Linked DNA regions of Homo sapiens. The protein of the gene in region 1 interacts with the protein of each later gene in a biochemical or structural test. Each region holds a gene or a part of one and is shown in the gene's direction. Other genes may lie near its edges.

Region 1 (5,009 bases):
TCTAGGTGAAAGCAGTTTTATAAAAATTGGCATTATGAGATGAATTGAAGAGTTGATGACAGAATGGCATATTTAAAATGTAAAGGGAAAATTCGCTTCTAATGTAGACCAATGACAGTTTCATTACAATGATGGTGTTTGTTTTTATATTTTTGACTAAAAAGCTGGAGAAATGTTGCAACTGAGTTTTATTTTACTTATTACTAATTTTTGTTAAAATTCCAGAGAAGATAGAAATAGTCTGTGTTTTTCGTGCCGTAATTTGAAGTGCCTGTGGATTTTAAATGATACTCATTTTCAAAGTATTAACATATTAATGTAATATACTGATATTGTGATTATAACTATATTTTGCTCTCATTTTGTCATATCCTACAAAATCCTTAATACAGAATTTCTTATCTGGGTAACTGGTTACATCTCAATGTATTAAATAATAGGTGTTGTACAAAAATAGCCACTTAAGAGTGTAAATATTTGTTTGAATTAGTTTCAAAGGGTACCTTTGTAAAAGGAGAGAGAAAAGATAGAAGTGCAACATAGTTTATTTCATTACAAACTGGTTTGTACATCTTTCAAGTTCCTGTAATTTCAGAGAAGTGTTGATGTTAAGTTGGAAGTTAAGAATAGTATATTATTGCTTTTATTTAAAATAAATGTCAACTACTAATTTGTGATTCATATAAAACTTTATTTTGAATTGTATTGTATTTAATTTGAACATGTGGGGAGTAATACAACGTACTGTTAGCATTTTGAATATTAATTTTCGGAGTTACAGTTATCTTAAAGTCTTACAAATATATGAGCAGTTTTGAAAAAGAATTTTTGTAATTATGGTAGTAATTATTATACATCTGCCAACATTTATTAGCTGACTTGTACTATATGAAAATTCATTATGTGAAAAAATAGAAACTCATTATTTGTATTCTGGCTTGTGGGTTTAAATTTATTGCAATTGCTTCTTAAAAATAGAAATGAAAAGACCAATGAGAAGGCAAAATAAGATAATAACTGATAATTATTTTATCTAGAAATCTGACTTTTAAAATTTTTTAGAAAATTAATATTTTTATTTTGTCAACATGTGAAAGCCCATAAATAATTACCTATTCCATAAGAATGTTTTAGACTGTTTTGAAAGCTTCCATGTAATTGATATTTTTCTAGTTAATTTTTCATTACTCCATTATGAACAGAACTATGAATAGACTGACCCAGCTGGAAAGACTGGATTTGGGAAGTAACGAATTCACGGAAGTGGTAAGTTCTCATCAGTCTCACTTTCCCTAAGTTCTTATATTTAATGAAGAACAAAATATGAAAATTAATGTATTTCTCTTACAAATTGGATAAAGGTTTACTTTTTTTTCTTAGTTACAAGATATGAAATTTCTTAGCCAGAACTTTCCAGACAGATAGAAAAATTAACCAGACAGATGAACTTCTGACCACAAGTGAGCATAAAATGTAAAATCAATGAGAGGTCCATGGAAGAGATACTAAACAATTTTTAGCATAGGAAGCAGAAAATTTGAGTGATTATAAGTGGGAAACATCAGTCTGGAATGCAGCAGGTAAAAGTAGTTCTGAATCAGAGAGAGCTCCATGGGGTATTGCTTGTTAACTTATTCAGTAATAAGATACTTCTCTATAATGTTACTTAATAGCTAAGGGGAAAATCATTGAGTGAAACAACTGTTATTTTTGAAGTGGTAATGAGAACCTTTTTGTTTGTGCTTTGTATGCCAAGTGCGCTATGAAGCTGACTCTAAAAGGAAAGGAGTAGTGTTTAAGTAGCTTTTGTCTTTAGTGAGTTTTCCAAAAGAACTCAGAAAATAAGCTAGATTTTTTTTTTTTTGAAGAGGAACTCATCCAGCTGAGTATCATTATTAAACTTTTAAATTAGTTTACAAGTTTGTTGTTTAAAAGTGTGGTAGCTCTCAAATGATGGTTTTAAGCCTAGGAATTTCTCAAAACTGCTTGCTATAGTATTGCCCTGTGGGTATTATATTAATATTATAAATTTCAGCTGAGGTTTGAGGAGGAACATGGTACTTTGGAGTACCTCATTCTCTAAAATACATGCTGTGCTTCCCAAATTATTTATCTGTTACGTCCTTTCTCAATATTTGTTCTGTATGAATCCGTTTCCGTATTAACTATTTCAAAAATCTCGTTCATTTTAAGAATCCAACAAGCTTTCAAAATCGTCATTAGTTTTTGTACCATTTTGGTCTTCCAACATTATACACTTTTTAAAACTTACAGTAGAATTTAACAGTAATGCACAAAAGGAAATTTCTTTTAATCCAAGTTACATCTGGGATTCTTATCTATATTTATATGTTAACAGTAAATCTGATTGGCATGCCTTTTATATATGACTGTTAACTATGGTCATTAGATGTGATAGTACTCTGTGCCATCACATGATCATTGATTGCAGATGGCTTTGTGAGGTGATAGAAATAACTTTGAAGAGGGCAGACTTGAAGGGACAATGCCCAGGAGCAAATTTTGCCTGGATATGAAGGTCTGCCACAACACTTGGATTAATTTTGATGTCCTCAACACCATATTATAAAGAATTTTCTACCATGTAATTAGAAGTTTTTACTAGAGGTTTAAATTACAGTATATTTGTATCATGTAGTTATGACTTTGTCTATTTACCTTTCCCTGATTATGGACATTTAGGATGCACGTTGTCTTTTATCTCCTTCTTAATGAATGTCACCAGGGAACATTTGTAATTTTTCTGTTTTCTAAAAGCTGTATCTTCTTACTGATAATGCATGAGTGCATATTTTTATTGTATACTTCTAAGCAGTGAGTCCTATTTTTTATTTCTTTACAAATTATATAAAAACTTGCCCCTGTTGTGTAATCCAAAGCTTAAATGTGTTTTTTGTAATCTACTGCTATGGCATGTCTCTTTGATTTCTCCATTAATAATTTTCTATAATAATTTTACTGTAGTAACTATAATGCAGTAGAAAGGCTTACATCCTGGCTCTTCTTTTTTATTTTTCCTTCTCCCTGCTCCTTTTATTTAATGATTTGAAACTAAAGGTTATTAGAAATTCCCAGGGCTTCTTTTGCCAGATAAAGACATTCATAAAAATTAATTGAATTACTGCTATCCCCTACCCTAATCCCAACAGCCTGAAGTACTTGAGCAACTAAGTGGATTGAAAGAGTTTTGGATGGATGCTAATAGACTGACTTTTATTCCAGGGGTATGTATATGAGATTTTAAATGGCATCACTTATTTCTGGCTCTCCTTTGCAGTTTTGTGAATTGTACCTTTTATAATTACTTTTAATTAATAAAAAAATTGAATTATTCTTTATTAAACAGAAGCAAATTACTTTTTTTCATGAGCACATTCTTGATTATAATCTAAGAATTCTCATAATAAACATTTGTATGTCTCCTTTTAATACTGTTGAGTGTGTCCTTTCCAATGGTATCACTTGAACTTACGTCCCAATTTGCTTTGCCCAAGGAATTGGTAAACTAGGATATTTTTCATGAACTTTCTGAATTTTTTTTTTTTTTTTTTTTGAGACAGAGTCTCGCTCTGTTGCCCAGGCTGGAGTGCAGTGGTGCGATCTCGGCTCACTGCGAGCTCCGCCTCCTGGGTTCACACCATTCTCCTGCCTCAGCCTCCTGAGTAGCTGGGACTACAGGTGACCACCACCATGCCCAGCTAATTTTTTTTTATTTTTTAGTGGAGACGGGATTTCACCGTGTTAGCCAGGATGGTCTCGATCTCCTGACCTCATTATCCGCCTGCCTCGGCCTACCAAAGTGCTGGGATTACAGGCGTGAGCCACCGCGCCCAGCCGAACTTTCTGTTTTAACAACTGACAAATTGTTTACTCCCATAAAAAAAACCACAAGAATCCCCATATATGCTATTTCCTTAGGAGGTAATGGATACCTGAATTCCCAAAGAATATGTCCTTTGTCACTTCTGCTATGCTACAATTAGTAGAACATCTTAGCTATATTACTGAATACATTTCTAATGGCATTTAAAAAACTACCTGGGAGTCTTCTTTCTTGTATTAGCATTTAATTTTGAATTAAAACTTGGTATCAAGTTTATTCCCTAAACTTTTTACAAATTACTAATGTTAATAGAGTCATTAGATTTTCTTTTTTTACTTATAGTTTATTGGTAGTTTGAAACAGCTCACATATTTGGATGTTTCTAAAAATAATATTGAAATGGTTGAAGAAGGAATTTCAACATGTGAAAACCTTCAAGACCTCCTATTATCAAGCAATTCACTTCAGCAGCTTCCTGAGACTATTGGTTTGTATTGCTTTCAAATTCATGTAATTTTTATTAAAATAAATTCGAGACTTCCACATAATCTCAAATTTCACTTGTTATGAGGTAGTTATACTTCGTTACCACAGGAACGGATTTTATTTGAATTTTTCCTGGTGTGATCAGTTGTACAGTTTGCTCCTTTGTTGACATTACTGTTTTTTATTTACTCTAAGGTAATCTCATTTTTATTTCTAATATATTTAAATTCTTTAAAATAAGTTAACTTATGCAAATTTGGCTTAACTGTTAGCTTTTATTGTCATAGCTTTTATTTTGGTAACTTTTTTCAGTCCTGTTTCATTACAGACACTCAGACAAGAAAACAGATCAGTTGAACAGATCATGAGAGATCTATGATTGAGTCTGTGTAGTTGCTTGTTCAATGATATGTCAATGGAATTGAATTATTTTGATGAAAGGACCCAAAACTTCAATCTTGACATCTTTTTGATGTTTTAATTTAAAAACCAAAAATATTTCTCAGTTAAATCACGTAGTGGTTTTAGCTAAAACTACATTTTTGTAAGTTTGTTACGATTCTACTCTTAGTCAACACTTTTTAAACTTAAAAAATATTTTACTGTTTTAGTATTTAGTATATATGGAATAGTTTTTTATATACCTGTTATGAACTACCTTCATACTACCATTTCTTTA
Region 2 (5,587 bases), on another chromosome or scaffold:
GCTGACAATCCTGAAGACATATCTATTTTTATTTTATCAATAATTTTTTTTTAATTTTCCAAAGATTATTAAAGTCAAATGAACTTGAAAGCATTTGGACTTATTTATTTAATTTATCAGTACTCTTTTATTTATAAGCTAATTTGGTACCATATAGACACAACATATAACATAATGCATGTATATGCATAAACAAGACAGTTGGATCAAACTTATTTTCCTGATAAAACTGGAATCTGTTCACATGGCTAAATTTTATTTGCCCTGATGAGCAAAGCAGTTTCCAGGGCACTTTGATTTTAAAAGACCTCTTTCCTTTTTTTTCTTTAGCCAGTAACCTGAAACTAGTAATACCATGAACAGTAAGTTTTATTTCAACACCAGCAGAAAAGTCAGCAGATTCAGAGTAGTCAGGAAGGAAAAATAGGCAAAGAACTTAGAAGACTACATGGTAACTCTTTAAGGACAGAAGAAGAAAGAGGGATTGACTGAAAATGTTTTACATGTGCCATTTTTCTTCAGGTTTTCTAGTTTATGGAGTTGCTTTGTTCTAATTGAGTGTGCAGGAGTCTGGAGATCTCATAAGGCTTCTGCTGTAGCCATCACAGTCTTTGACCTCTGTTAAGCCAAATATTGCTACACAGACCAAAAATACAGACAGACCAACAAAAATCAGAACCAGACTAGATTATCTTAGTGGCTGTAGCTTTTTAGTATTGCCTTAATTCTTTGGGACTTAAACATACACCAGATTTGGGACTCTGAACTGACCAGAATCCCCCTTGGGTAGGACTCAAATCCACAATCCTAGACAAGGTTGGGACTCTCATCCATAATCCTAAACCACAGGGTGGGACTTGAACCCACAGTCGTTATGATGAGTTCAAAGACAATTAAAAGTACAGGGGCATATTAACAAGGTACTCACCAGAAAGATGTCTAATCCAGAAGCAATTTATTTTCCCAAAAGAGAAGTGCCAAGGGAGCCTGAAGTGCCATGGTGGAGAAGAAGGAACCCTATAGTCGAGCCTCTGGACACCCTGGTCTAGGTGGCCACTCAGGATCAGTGCAGGGGGCCTGCACACCACTAGGGGCAACAGTACCTTGGACAGGCTGTTCGTCTCACCTGGGGTTCTAGTTTGTTAACAAGCAAAAGGGGCTCACTGCCCAATGTGCTAGAAGCCAACACTGACACCAAATTTTTGAAAAAAAGAAAAGCTTTATATTAAAAGTCACCTCTGAAGGAGACAGGAGTCAAGCTCAAATTTGTCTCTTTCTGCTGGCATTAAGGCAGTACTTTTATTAGAAAAGGTTCAGGGGGTGGATTCTGAGATTAGTAGGTGATTTGTGCAAGGAAAAGGGAGGTCTGGAAAGTCCTTGGGCATGCATAGTTATTTCTTCATGTTAACTCCTGAGTTGCATGGCAAATTCAGGGAGAGTTAGTATGAAACGTGGTGGAAATTCAGGCTATGACATCAGCAAGCTTATTCTGTGCAAGCTCCAGTTAGCCATCTTGGTTCCAACCAGTTTCAGCCAGGTTTTTCTTGATCTCACAAGTGGAGGGAGTTTCAGCGGCTTAAGTTTCTTTTCTTATCTGCTATCTTGAAACTCAAAAATTAAGTAACTGGTTTCTTACTCTTTGGGACTTTCCAGACCTCCCATTTCCATCCACCAATCACCTACTAATCTCAGAATCCACCCCCTGAATCTTTTCTAATAAAAATACTACCTTAATGTCAGCACAGAGAGACAGATTTGAGCTTGACTCTTGTCTCCTTGGGAGTTGACTTTCAATATACAAGTTTTTCTTTTTTAAAGAACTTAGTGTTTTAGTATTGGCTTCTATTGCATTGGGTAGTGAGCCGCTTCAGCTCTGTAACACTAACTCTGGTAGATAGCATCAGGATGAAATTGAATTGTAGGGCACACAGTTGGTGTCAGAGAATTAAGGAATTGAGTAGTGTCAGAAAACACCTCAGACTACACTTTCTCCCTTGGTATGGGAAGAGTTCAGTTTGTGTTTCTTTCTTCTTGAGTGACCCAACTCCAAGAAGATGCCACTTCTGGAGAGAGAATAGGGATCTCAACTTAGCCTGGCAGTGAGAATACGAATGGCAGCTGGAATGACCCAACAGGGGGCTAATGTTTGGGCTATTGTGTGTGTCACACTGACCCTGACCAGCCAAGTAGTCACAGCACCCACAAGCTCTTCCTGCCTGTCAGATGCCTCATTCCCACCTGTGATGCTCAGAGAGAAACCATGAGCCCTGAAAAACACCATATTGTTTTGTGATGTCACCTCTGGAATGTTCTGAGTGTTTTGGTGACCAACTTCTGCATAGGACCTATACCTGGCAACTCACATTGGTATGGCTTTTTACTTGAGATAGAAATAATCATCTTAGACAGGGAAGCAGGTACAGCTATCTCCACTTCAAAAACTTTCAAAAGCCTTTTACATCAACTATAATATCTAGCTTAATATCTGTTCAGAGATTGATAAACCATCATGCCAGATATCATCTACACGTTCTTTCAGACTCAGACTTTCATAATTGTACATAATTGACAAGAGAGAAATAAATGAGTAGAAAGTTCTGTGTTTTTTAGGCGAGCAATTGAGGCCCAGAGGATGAGCTGGGAAGCAGTAATCTTCTTCTTTTCTCGTTTCCACAGCACTCAAGGCCAAATTATACAAGAAAAAGAGATACCAGATCTGAAAGCCTAGAAATTCCAATCAGTGTGGTTCTACCTCAGGTAGGGATAATCACAGAAGGATGTAACCTATCAGTGTTAGCCAGAATAACCCCCCATCTCCTCCTTCAAAACTCTAGCAAGATGTTGTAGAATAAGCAGAGATAGTCAGGGCTTCAGATTATAGTTTGGGTTGGGTGCCAGCAGGCGGTGTGCTGGGGAAGGCCACATAGCCCCTCTGGGCCTTGGGTTCTTTTTCCCATGAATGAGGTGGCTGGGTCAGATGATCTGGTAAGAACTTCCAGTCCTAACATTCCAAGTTTCTATGATACACTGAAGTAACCCAGCCTTCTCAAAACGAGATCTTTTGGTGCTTAGTGTTGTGCAATCACTCTGGATTTCTGGGGGAGAATTAGAACTGGGACTTGAAATCAAATGCATAAGAATGAATCCATGAGAAGAAAACCTCATCCGTGGACAAAGGGGTACAGAGTTATTTGGAGCTGTCAAGAGAATTAAGCCCTGCTATGCATCAAAGACAGATGTAGGGGCCATGGGCATAGATGCTTTTTCAGTCAATGAATTGGTGAAGTCCTCACAGGCTATAGAGTCTCAGGTCTCCTCCTGCCTGCAATCAGCTGTTTCCTTAGTGGAGTCCTCTTGATTGAATTGTTTCTACTGCTGCTATGTCACAAAGGGGTGGCTTTGCTTTCTCCAGAGTCACCTAAGTCCTCATTGGAAGACCAGGGCCATGCAACCAGAGGGGTTGAAATGTAGGATGGAGGAATCCAATGCAGAGGTAACTATCTGAGAGCTCTGTCCAGGGATGTGTAGGAGGAGGATTGACCACTGGTGGGCATTCCATATATATAATTGTAACAATCTAGGCAAGTATGTTCAGCGGGAGGCAAAAATATGGAAGAAGAAAACATCCTGGATGTTTATTTTCACATTATCTTTATAACTTTGTAATGAACAGTCACTTTTCTGTTACTTTTAGCCCATGAATCTTAGCCAGAATATAAGATAACTTCCCCCTGATCATTCAACAAGATAACAAGCTGTAGGAATCTTTTTGGGCCTGATTCTTTCCACCTGAAATACGCAGGGAGTTGTGTTAGCCACTACTCCCCCAAGAGTGGGTGTTACTGCTGTGATTCCTCATAGCCCATATAAACCAATCTTTTCTTCCAGAATCCTGGGGCCCCTCAACTTTACATGCTTTGAAAGTACCTCAGATGGCTGAATGTTCTCTGATAGTAACCCTCGGTAATGTTAGCAAAGTTGGTGTTTAAGAAACTTGGTCAGGCAGAGGATGCCAACCTAGGGGTGGGTGTGAAGGAGGGGGTAGGATTTGAAAGAGTAGTGGTCATGTGATAGAGAAATTGGAATGATGTTTCCATCAACACCCACCGCAACTTTCCCTCCCCAGCTCCCAGAAACAGCCCAACGATCAAGGAGAAGAGAAGGTGGTTTAAGACAGCTCAAGCTTGTCTTGGGGCTGCCTGCTTCCTGTGCTGGAGGACCTGGTGCTGCTGCTGGGGTCTTGTGGGGCAGAGTGGGTGAAGAATGAGAGGATATCTCCTGTCTGGGCACGTGTACCTCACAAGGGCAGATGCAGCTTCGTGCGTACACCTGCCAAGAGGGCACAAGCCATGCACCAGGTTTTGGACACCTGTCAGGATGCTCAAGACTGGCACTCTGGGGGATGGGTGTGGGTGTCTACAACTAGATGATCCGAACCAAAATACCACCAGGCCTGCGAGAGGGACCAGTGTGCTCACTCTACCTCCCTAAATGAGATGGCACATGGCTTAGGGGACAGGGTTGATCTGGGAAGCAAGGAGAGGAAGAAATATTGACTGAATGTTGGTGCGATCATGTGTCGGGCATGGGGCCAAGCAAGTGTGAGGTAGAGATTTTACAGGTACAGGAACCGGCAACCCCAGGAACCCCACTAGTAATGGCAGAGCTCGAGGAAGGGGCTTGAACTCAAATCAGTGCCCATGTTCTCCGCTATACTAGGGCACATGCCAGTAAGCTGGGCCATGCTGCATCTTAGCTCCATGGTTCTTCTCTTGCTTTTTGGAGATGGAGTCTTCTCCCTGCATCTTAACCACTCATCTCTGGGCTTCTTATTTTGTATTTGCCAAAAGCTGCTCTATTCTGGGATGGAGTCCACTTTCCATTTGTTTCAGAAAGGACTTGTGGCAGCAGCTCTGTCTCCAGAGACTGCCTCTGGCTCCCAGCTGCCAGTCCTGCTGTGCGTTTGGGCTTCTCAATTACATTGGAAATGCCTGTGATCACTACATGTTATCACCCTAAGGTCTTTTCAGGACTCATTGATTTCCTGTTTTTCTTCCTCACATTAAATATTTGTGTTTTCTGATCTCTTTCCCTCCAGCACATTAACTTGCAAGCCATCAGTGTCATTTCCAGCCCAAGCTAGCTGATCTCCTGGTTCCTTTTGTATGTAATGATTCAGTTCTCACAGACTTTCGCGTTTCCCCAATGAACGTGCTCTGTGAATTTCATTAAGGCATTGTTTACTCCTAGATCATTAATGAAAGAGCTACACCAGGTCAGACTGAGCTCCAATAGCACCCTCCGGTGCCTCCTTCATCCTTCCCAGTTGCCTTTTCTCCTTCCCCTTTGTTTGTGCTTGTTACTCAGAAGCAGTGAATTCCTGCTGACAGCACCCGCCAATTTGAATTCCCAGGAAGATTTCAGGAGAGTCTCTGTTAAACAGTATGCAAACATACTACATATGACATCTTCTTTATCCTCTTTGCTGTTAACGTTGTAATTCTGTCAACATCAATCACATTTACCTTGTGAATTATCCTTTTACCTGTTAGTATTTATTAAAACCACCATTGACTTTGCCATGGTA
Region 3 (5,009 bases), on another chromosome or scaffold:
TTTTTGCAGAAGTGACAGTTGAGATGAGATTGAAATAATATGTAAGAGTTGGTAAAGTAGAAGGAAATTTTTCAAAGTTTATCCTAGCAGCACCATTAAAACTATATTAGAAGAGTCTGATACTTAGAGAGATTAATAATAAAGATAATTTTTGTCCAACAATCCAAGTAAGAAAGAGGCCAGAGCTAAAGCTATTGCATTGGGATGGAGAGGAGGGCAAGAGTATGAGAAATATTAAGATGTTGGAAGCCACAAGAGTTGGTGATTTGTTAGTAATTGAATATGAGAGATAAGGAGTAATTCTCGGTAGGATTTTTATGGCTTAGGTGACTAAGTGGTGTTCTTTCCTGAGATAAGGAATGAAGGAGGCACAAGAGGAAGGATGGTTTTGGAGACAGAAATAATGAGTTCAGTTCTGAATGTGTCCAGTTTGCTGGTGAAGTAGAGCTTTCTAGTTCACAATTGAGTATGTGTCTGATGCCCATTGGAGAGGCCTGAGCCACAAATGTAGATCAGCCGGTCGTGGGCACATAGGTATAGATTAGAATGGTTGTGATCTTTCAGGAGAGCAAGAAGAGGAGCGAACCAAAAATAGTACACCAGGAGTGACAAAGATAAAGGAGCTAGTAGACAATCTTAGATAAATCACTTAAGATCTGTGAACTTCAGTTCCTTTGTCAGTGAATTGGGAATTTTTAGGGTTAAAGGAAATAATGTCTATGTAATAATTGATAAACATTTTCAAATCTTTTTTAAAAAGTGTGATATTTTGAAGTTCTCATCAAAGAATGTACAATCTTAATTTTTAAATATGTTCTGTTGCTCTGAATTTTGAAAACCAATAAAAATCTTTTTATTTTCATAAAGCTTTTTTAAATGTAAGAAGTGATTATTACAATAATGTTCTGTTTGTGCAGGTGGATGGAAAACACAGAAAGAAAAATTCAGTGTTTGAAAGACTTCAAATTGATATTCAACACTTGTGTTTGAGTAAGTTGTGTAACTTTCCATTGGTCTACAAATAAATCATAACTGTTTTAAACTCTGAGGTTGCTTAGAAATCCAATCATGCAGAACTGTGCTTCAGGGAAAACAGTCAAATCAATTCATTGTTAATATAGAATGTTTTATATAATGTTTTTAAATAGATGTAAATTGAATTAAGGTTGAGAATTTTAAAAATTTTCAGTATCAAGTGGAAATGAAGTGTTATATTAGGGAAGAGTTTAAAAGTTTTATAATATGTACTTCTGTTGTTTCTTTGTCCTGTTTAAATTAATTTTGAGTCTGTTCAAACTATAAACTAGCCTTCTGCCTGCAGTTAACGTGACTTTACCTAAACCATGAAAGAAAATGAGATATTTCTCTGCCTAGCTAATGTGTAAAAGATACTTCCTAGAATTTTAAATTGTACAAAAGAAGTCATCACTGTGGGATTCATATTCCATACACAAAACACACACAGACACATACACACACAAACTCCTCAATCAACCTCTGTAGTGCCCTTTTTATACCTTTTCTATTTTTCAGATTATCCAAAGAAAATAATGCAAACATATCTTTGCAACCTCTTCCATTCACCAATTTTAATCCAGCCATGAAAAGCAACCCAGCATTTGTATAGAAATCAATGTATTTAAAATTATTTAGCTGAATATATTAACTTTCTGATGTTATGAACCCTAAACAAGTTCTTATGTTATATGTTGGGTTCCATAAAGTGATAATTTTTGTTTGAGTCTCTTTCAGGCTAAAATTCAGAGACTCTAATTAGTTCTTTCTTTTGGAAGGCCACATTAATATGTACTTTATTTCACTAGACAGTTAATTCTCATTTCCATTTCAGACAAGATTCCTGTGCTAAGAGAAGAAAAACTACCTGTGGTAGGAATTGGAAAGCATCTGTGTGGTATGGCAACAGGTACGTAAACATACTGATAATGTTTACATTAATGCATTAAGTTTTGGCCTAACCTGGCCCCAACCATTTCAGTGGTCTCTTTTGAATAGATATCTTATGTTTACAACTCAATAATCTTTATAGAGCACTGGCCCTGTGCTTTATTAGATGCATAGCTTTCCTATTTATCTGCTCATATTGGCCATTTTGCAGGATGAATTAAGAGTTTTGTATGTAAATACTGCATCACATTAGACCTTAAAGTTCTTTGGGTTAAATTTCAACCAGAAAAGGAAAATAAGACCATTTATGGAAACTGTATGATTCCACCTAGAAGCTACTGATTTTTTAGAGTAGTTGCTTAGAAAGAACTCAGAAACCTCTTCTACTAAAAGACTATTGTGTTTCAGGATTCTGGGGAAAAAGAAAAAAATAAATGTTAGACAAAAAAAAAAAATCTAAGATGTCTTGTCTTAGCACTTTGATCCATCAGATCTAGCATGGTAAAGTGGAAACAGCATGTGCTTTAGAATCAGATAGTCTAGCCTTCAGCTTTGTTGTGTAACCTTGTCAAATTACTTAACCTTTCTGAGCTTTGGTTACCTCATCTATAAAACAGAGATACTAATATATTAATAATTTACCGGGTTGCATGTAAAGTGTCTGGCACATAATAGTGCTCAATAAATGTTAATTATTGTTACATCATCTTCCTAACTTTTGCTAGTTTCATCATCTACCCATATGGATTACTTGGAGCATCCATAGATATTATTCATATTGGCTGGAAATGGCATTGAGTACTATATATTTGTGTTGGCCTTCATAGTTTTTAAGACTATAGTCATGTACAACATAACGATGATTTGGTCAACAATGGACTCATATATGACAGTGGTCCTATAAAATTATACCATATTTTTACTGTACCTTTTTTGTATTTAGATACACAAATACCATTGTGTTACAGTTGCCTACAGTATTCAGTAACATGCTGTACAGGTTTGTAGCTTAGGAGCAATAGGCTGTGCCATACACCCTAGGTGTGTAGTAGGCTACACTACACCATCTAGGTTTGTGTAGTACACTCTGATGTTCCTACAATGATGAAATCGCCTAATGCATTTCCCAAAACATACACCAATAGTTAAGCAATGCATGACTGTACTTTTGCATACCTTATCTCATTTAAGCCTCATAAAAGTCTTCTAAAGTAAACCAGTTCCATCCCGGGGGTAGGAGGGAGTACACTCTTTTGACCTACAGTGGCCATTTCTCATGTTCCACATAATTTTTTCCCTTGATTCACTGTATCTGAATCCTCCTTTTGTCTCTGCTGCAGTTGCTTACCCTTTTTGAAATTCCATTTTCTTCTCTTTTGCGATACTCTTATTTCCTGGTTCTTCCCCTACATCTATGCCATTCTTCTGTTTATTTCACAGTCTCCTTCCACTTCTGTCCTTAAAATACTAATATTCAGGCCAGGCACAGTGGCTTATGCCTGGAAACCCAACACTGGAGGCTGAGGTGAGATGATTGCTTGAGGCTAGGAGTTCAGGATTAGCTTGGGCACATAGGAAGACCCCATCTCTACAGAAATTTGTTGGGCACGATAGCTTGTGCATGTAGTCCCAGCTATTCAGGAGGCTGAGGTGGGAGGATCACTTGAGCCTAAGAGTCTGAGTCTGCAGTCAACTGGGATAGCACCACTGCACTGCAGCCTGGGTGACAGAGCAAGACCCTATCTCAATCGGTCAATCAATCTCAGACCCATCTGCTACACAACTAATGTGTCTTTCCCTTTAAACTCTTCGGTACTTCCTGATATAGTCCAAACTCTTTGACATAACGTTTTAGTCTCAATCTGGCTTCAGCCTTCCTCTCTTTACATTCCCTGTCTCCTACTTTGCTGTTCAGCAACATCAAACCCTGTGTGCTTTTCCATAGACTGTACTATTTCTACTATATCTGGAATTTCACCCCCATTCACCTACTCACCCAAACAAAACAACTGGTCAATTTTTACTCATCCTTCACCTCAGTTGTCACCACTCTCAGGGAGCTCCCTTAAATAAGATATGCCTCCTTGGTGTTATCATAATACCCTCTGCATATTTTTACCTTGTGGTATTTTAATTATCTGTTTATATATCTAATTCTTCCACCATGCTCTGAATTTTTTGAGTATATGGTATATACTTAGTACGATGCTTGCTATATAACAGGAACACAGTGAATATTTGAATGAATGAATAATCTTGGCTACCAATTTGCTGTGTTTCCTTGTCCCTTTCTGCATATGTGGCTTTGTCTTTTAAGTTCTTTATAAAAGATGAATTGAGATAAATTGCTAAAGCTCCTTCTAATTCTGAAATAACTTAATTCTTTTTTTTTTTTCTTCGAGACGGAGTCTCGCTCTGTCGCCCAGACTGGAGTGCAGTGGCGCAATCTCGGCTCACTGCAACCTCCGCCTCCCGGCTTCAAGCGATTCTCCTGCCTCAGCCTCCCGAATTGCTGGGACTACAGACTCGTGCCACCACGCCCGGCTAATTTTTGTATTTTTAGTAGAGACGGGATTTCACCGTGTTAGCCAGGAAGGTCTCCATCTCCTGACCTCGTGATCTGCCCACCTCAGCCGGCGTGAGCTACTGCGCCTGGCCTGAAATAACTTAATTCTTTTAATAATTTATCTGGTTATTCACATTTCTGAAAATCACTTACTTAAGTCAAATATGAATAAAACAATGACTAAATGTATTTTGTCAGAAAATAATAGTTTATGAAATAATAGATTAGCTATCACTTTCTGCAAATAATGGGTTTCTAATGTTTGTTGACTTAAATTCATATATTGAATTAAATTTACTAGTGAAATATCAGATCATTTAATAGTCATTTGTGATATCTTAGGGTAATAAAATTTTAAAATATGTATATGTTTTTGATTGAACAGACACAACATGACAATCTAATGATTAAGAAGATATGGGTCCTACATTTTGGGTCTTTCCAGTATTGTCAACAGTGTAGGAGTTTTCGATGGGAAATAGCCATAGTCATCAAAAATCCATTTATTTAGTTTTAAAATATACTAAAATATTTTCAT
Region 4 (5,009 bases), on another chromosome or scaffold:
TGTGAAATAATCAGATCATAGACAATGAGGTATCCATCCCCTCGAACTTTTATCCTTTGTGTTACTAACAATCCCGTGAACACTCTTTTAGTTATTTTAAAATGTATAATTAGTTACTACTGACTATAGTCAACCCTGTTATGCTGTCAAATAATAGATCTTATTCATTCTTACTGTTTTTTTTGTACTCATTAACTGTTCTCAGCGCCCCCTCCCCCAACACTTCCCAGTCTCTGGTAACCATCTTCTACCGTCTATGTCCATGAGTTCAATTGTTTTGATTTTTAGATCCCACAAATGAGTGAGAACATGGGATGTTTGTCTTTCTGTGCCTGACTTATTTCACTTAATATGATCTCCAGTTCATCCATGCTGTTGTGTGGATCAACATGTTGTTGCAGGATCTCTTTCTTTTTTATGACTGAATAGTACTCCATTGTGTATATGTACATTTTCTTTATCCATTCATCTGTTGATGTACGCTTGGGTTGCTTCCAAATCTTGGCTTTTGTGAACAGTGCTACAACAAACATGGGAGTGCAGATATTTCTTTGACATAGTGGTTTCCTTTCTTTTGGGTATATACCCAGCAGTGGGATTGCTGGATCATATGGTAGCTCTATTTTTAGTTTTTTGAGGAACCTCCAAACTGTTCTCCATAGTGGTTGTATGAATTTACATTTCCAAGTAACCAAAACTTTAAAACCTGTTCATTAAGTTGTTAAAATGAATTGTATAACCAGAATTTTAAGAGATACACAGATTTAAAATGATGCTCATTCTCCCCACTTAAAATTAGGCTTGGTAAGGAGGCTTTCTTGTGGTGACGAAGTTGCTTATTGGGAGGGAGAAGGTGAAAGACTGAATTTTTAAATCTCTGTACTATGTATGAACAGCAGGCTTCCTCAGGCTATTTTCTCTCATAACTGTGTTACCTTCAGTGCCTTCCTTATCCTTTTGTAGCTTTCAGATTTTTTTTGGTTTTTCAATGTTAGTAATATTAGGATTTCTGTTTAATTTACAACATCACTTATGAAAGCTTTTGGTCTGGAAAAACATCATGTTTGGATTCTTCATAGGGTTGGTAGGGGTGCAGCTGCTAGTTAACTAGTAATGTTTTTGCAATTTTAAGTATAATGAGTCCTCTCATCCCTTTAATATTTAAAATAAGTACCAGTTTTTCAAAACTTTTGTTGAATTGTAAGTTTAACTCAACAAACATAAATTGAGTCCCTATTATGACTTGGCCAAGCTTGAAAGCATAAACCATCACACTGGGAAATAAAGACTAATGTAACAAATAGCTTTTTAAAAAAGAGACTAAACATTTATATTGAAGTCTGTTGCATGACATCAGCCTCCAGCTACGTGGCTTGGTTCCCTGGATATTTCAAAGAAGGAAGATATATCTTTTTGTTTAATGTGTCATGGTAGACCCTGCTGCCTTGCATAACAAGGCTGCAGATACATTTTTCTCCATAGCTCAGTGGTAAGACACTGTCATTAATACCACTTCTCTTGCCATTGTGAAGCTTCTAATTTCTCATTGGCACAGAATACATGACCCAGTTTAAGAACAGTGCTGGGTGTAATTTAAGTACCAAAATTAAGTTGGGAAAAGCTAATTGAGCCCAAGAATGACAGGCAAAGGATGCTAGATCTTGATTCTCTGGAGAATAAGGAACAATTGAAGACTAAAGAGGGGAATTACCAGTAAAAGCAATGAAATAATTTAGGCATAATGTGATACGGCCCAGAGTTCTATCTGGCAATTGAATGAAATAGATTTGAGCAACATTTTGAAGAAAGCATATGCAGGAATGTTGACTTACTAAATAAGTGTTAAGGGAAGGCAAGAGTCAGAGATGGGCCAGGCATGGTGGCTCACACCTGTAATCCCAGCACTTTGGGAGGCCAAGGCAGGAGGACAGCTTGAGGCTAGGAGTTCAAGACCAGCCTGGACAACATAGCAGACCTTGTCTCTACAAAAAAGTTAGCCAGGTGTGGTGGCATGCACCTGTGGTCCTAGCTACTTGGGAGACTGAGGTGAGAGGATCACTTGAGTCCAGTAGTTGGAGCCTATGATGCCACTATTATTGTGCCACTGCTCTCTAGCCTGGGTGACAGAATGAGATCCTATGTTAAAAAAAAAAAGAAGGGGGAGGGCTAGGCGGAGTGGCTTACGCCTGTAATCCCAGCACTTTGGGAGGCTGAGGCTGGCAGATCATCCGAGGTTAGGAGTTTGAGATCAGCCTTGCCAACATGGCAAAACACTGTCTCTACTAAAAATATAAAAGTTAGCTGGGTGTGGTGGCATACGCCTGTAGTCCCAGCTGCTTTGGAGGCTGAGGCAGGAGATTTGCTTGAACCCGGGAAGCAGAGGTTGTAGTGTGCTGAGATCATACCATTGTACTCTAGCCTGGGCTACAGAGCAAGACCCCATCTGAAAAAAAAAAGGAGATAGGAAGATATTGAGGAAAGTACTGAAACAGCTGGCCATTGAACAGGTCATCTTTAGGGAAAAGGATTGGTTGTTTGATAAGAAGCTTTGATAAGAGGGAGGAACAGATTTGGGGGCAGTTTGGGATGGATAGGGCTAGGTTTGCTGAAGGGGAAGCAAGGAGATTGAGGTATAATGGCGGGCTGGTACATTTTAGATCTGGAGGCAGAACAGCAGTTCTAAGGTAAGGGCTCTTTTAGGGTTGTTCATGGATTGGAGGGCAAATGAAGTTAAAGACAAAGGTAGTATAAGATGCTTTTCTTGAGAGGGAGAGATGTGCGGAAAATAGCATGAGAGTAACGCTGAGGTTGTTTATGAGAGTGAAAGTGGAGTTCTTCACAATATCAGAAGCTTAAGGATGTTGAATTTAAAGCTACATAGTACTTCAGGTTTTATTCTTGCTTCTAAATTCCAGTGTTTAGAAGGATTGTCTTGAAGATATGGACAACCAAAGTGATTTTTCCTGTATAAGTACCTTACTAGCTGATTGCACCACTAGAGCTCCAAAAATTATCATTTATTTCTAAAGAAGTTCTGTAGTAGAATTGAATCGGATGGCAGTGGGACTGAACATTTTGTAACTTTTTTTTTTCTTTTTTAATGAACGTGGAATAGGAATTTGTCATTCAAGAAGCTTTAGAAGAACATGACAAAAATGGTGATGGATTTGTTAGTTTGGAAGAATTTCTTGGTGATTACAGGTGGGATCCAAGTAAGTCACCTGGGAGAATGTGAAAAGAGAAAAGGAATTGAAGAAAGACATTGAAAGACAGCCTTGCTCATTGAAAGCTCTCTTCAACAGGAAATGTAATGAGGATCTGTGTCTGATCCTACTTGTTTCGTTAACTGTAATACAAGTTCAACAAATGGATTTATAGCTTATCTGAGAACGCTGTCTTGCTTACTTTTACTTCCGTGTCTAGAGTCAAACATTTTTCTTTCTTTTCAAACAAATCTAATTTTATTATCAGTTTAAATGGGGAAGGAAGTAAGGTAGATATTTTTAAACAAAATCCTGTGCTGTTGCAGGTGGATCTTAAAAGAGATAGAAACATAAAACACTACAAATACTGGTGTAAACACAGTATCAGAAGCTTAGTAGAAGGTGAATAAGTGTTTGAAATTAAGAGTTTGCTTTTATATAAGCAGCTGTTTTTTCAGAATTGTTGCTTAAAGACACCAAACAATGCCATTTTTAAATTGGTCACCAGTTTTACTTATTCTGATTGTCACTTTAAAATTACACATGGCATTACTTTGTGAAAACATGTAAGAAACTTTGTATAGAAACATGATATACAGTAAAACATTACCCACCTCACATCTGGGAAAACTAGATATCGGAACAAATAGCAGTTAACAAAATTACTAGTTTGTGAAAACATCCAATGATTTTAAAACTGGGTTGTTTAGACTCGTGTCACTTTTGAAAATGACTATATATTTGTTCTTATGTCAGGACTTTTCAGTTAAGTAGTTCTGTTTTATTGGGCTTTCTTTAGTAAACTTTAAATTCACTTCCTTTATTCTAGGGATATACCAAACTTCTTATTGGATACATGTGATATTCTTGTGTATGTATATTTGTGTTTTTTTATATTAAGCTGCAAATGAAGATCCAGAATGGATACTTGTTGAGAAAGACAGATTCGTGAATGATTATGACAAAGATAACGATGGCAGGCTTGATCCCCAAGAGCTGTTACCTTGGGTAGTACCTAATAATCAGGGCATTGCACAAGAGGAGGTAAGTGTTACAGAACAACTGTTTCTCTCCACCCCCTCCCCCCGAATTTGGTGCTGTTGATAGGAAAAGAAGTTCAAAATCTTAAGCCAAAGAAAGAAGTAATGGAGTTATTTGGGATTGATGCATTACTATGTTTTGAATTTACGAACTGTTTAGATTGTCAGGGAGACGAGGAAGTTAAGATTGTGTCATGTATTAATTTGAGAGTACAGTGAATAGAATAATAGTTTGTATTTACCTACAGGGACTCAAAACAGGTTATAATAATTTTTCATTGCCTTGATATATCCTGGATTGGATTTGAGTGGAGAGAGACAGAACCCAGCAGAAATGAAGAAAGGAGATAATGGGAAAAGCAGTAGACGGACCTGGTTACAACGTGTAACATTTTTAGATACTTAAACAATAATGAGTACTTGTACACCTGGATGATTTTGACAAGTCAAATCACATTAAATTGTGAACATCTTGCTGAAAATACTTATTACACTTGACACTTTTTTGTTTTATTTTGAAGGCGCTTCATCTAATTGATGAAATGGATTTGAATGGTGACAAAAAGCTCTCTGAAGAAGAGATTCTGGAAAACCCGGACTTGTTTCTCACCAGTGAAGCCACAGATTATGGCAGACAGCTCCATGATGACTATTTCTATCATGATGAGCTTTAATCTCTGAGCCTGTCTCAGTAGAGTACTGGCTCCTTTTATAATTTGTTACCAGCTTTACTTTTGTGATAAAATATTGATGTTGTATTTTACAC

The links.
Region 2: the proteins of ERBIN (region 1) and CBY2 interact in a test that uses a peptide from one of them, tested with the Homo sapiens proteins (one large-scale study listed by IntAct).
Region 3: the proteins of ERBIN (region 1) and TRMT13 interact in a test that uses a peptide from one of them, tested with the Homo sapiens proteins (one large-scale study listed by IntAct).
Region 4: the proteins of ERBIN (region 1) and RCN2 interact in a test that uses a peptide from one of them, tested with the Homo sapiens proteins (one large-scale study listed by IntAct).

Annotation. Positions count from the first base shown.
Region 1 is NC_000005.10:66,020,120-66,025,128, forward strand, and holds part of ERBIN (erbin), read left to right. Parts: intron 1-1,202; coding exon 1,203-1,266; intron 1,267-3,170; coding exon 3,171-3,245; intron 3,246-4,186; coding exon 4,187-4,331; intron 4,332-5,009. UniProt on the Homo sapiens protein: Acts as an adapter for the receptor ERBB2, in epithelia. By binding the unphosphorylated 'Tyr-1248' of receptor ERBB2, it may contribute to stabilize this unphosphorylated state.
Region 2 is NC_000013.11:45,700,099-45,705,685, forward strand, and holds the start of CBY2 (protein chibby homolog 2), read left to right. Parts: upstream 1-2,221; 5' UTR 2,222-2,292; coding exon 2,293-2,367; exon of another isoform or gene 2,368-2,417; intron 2,418-2,676; coding exon 2,677-2,757; intron 2,758-3,412; coding exon of another isoform or gene 3,413-3,493; intron 3,494-5,587.
Region 3 is NC_000001.11:100,142,220-100,147,228, forward strand, and holds part of TRMT13 (tRNA:m(4)X modification enzyme TRM13 homolog), read left to right. Parts: intron 1-917; coding exon 918-990; exon of another isoform or gene 991-995; intron 996-1,849; coding exon 1,850-1,924; intron 1,925-4,307; coding exon of another isoform or gene 4,308-4,453; exon of another isoform or gene 4,454-5,009. UniProt on the Homo sapiens protein: tRNA methylase which 2'-O-methylates cytidine(4) in tRNA(Pro) and tRNA(Gly)(GCC), and adenosine(4) in tRNA(His).
Region 4 is NC_000015.10:76,944,306-76,949,314, forward strand, and holds part of RCN2 (reticulocalbin-2 isoform a precursor), read left to right. Parts: intron 1-3,115; coding exon 3,116-3,212; intron 3,213-4,104; coding exon 4,105-4,247; intron 4,248-4,764; coding exon 4,765-4,917; 3' UTR 4,918-5,009.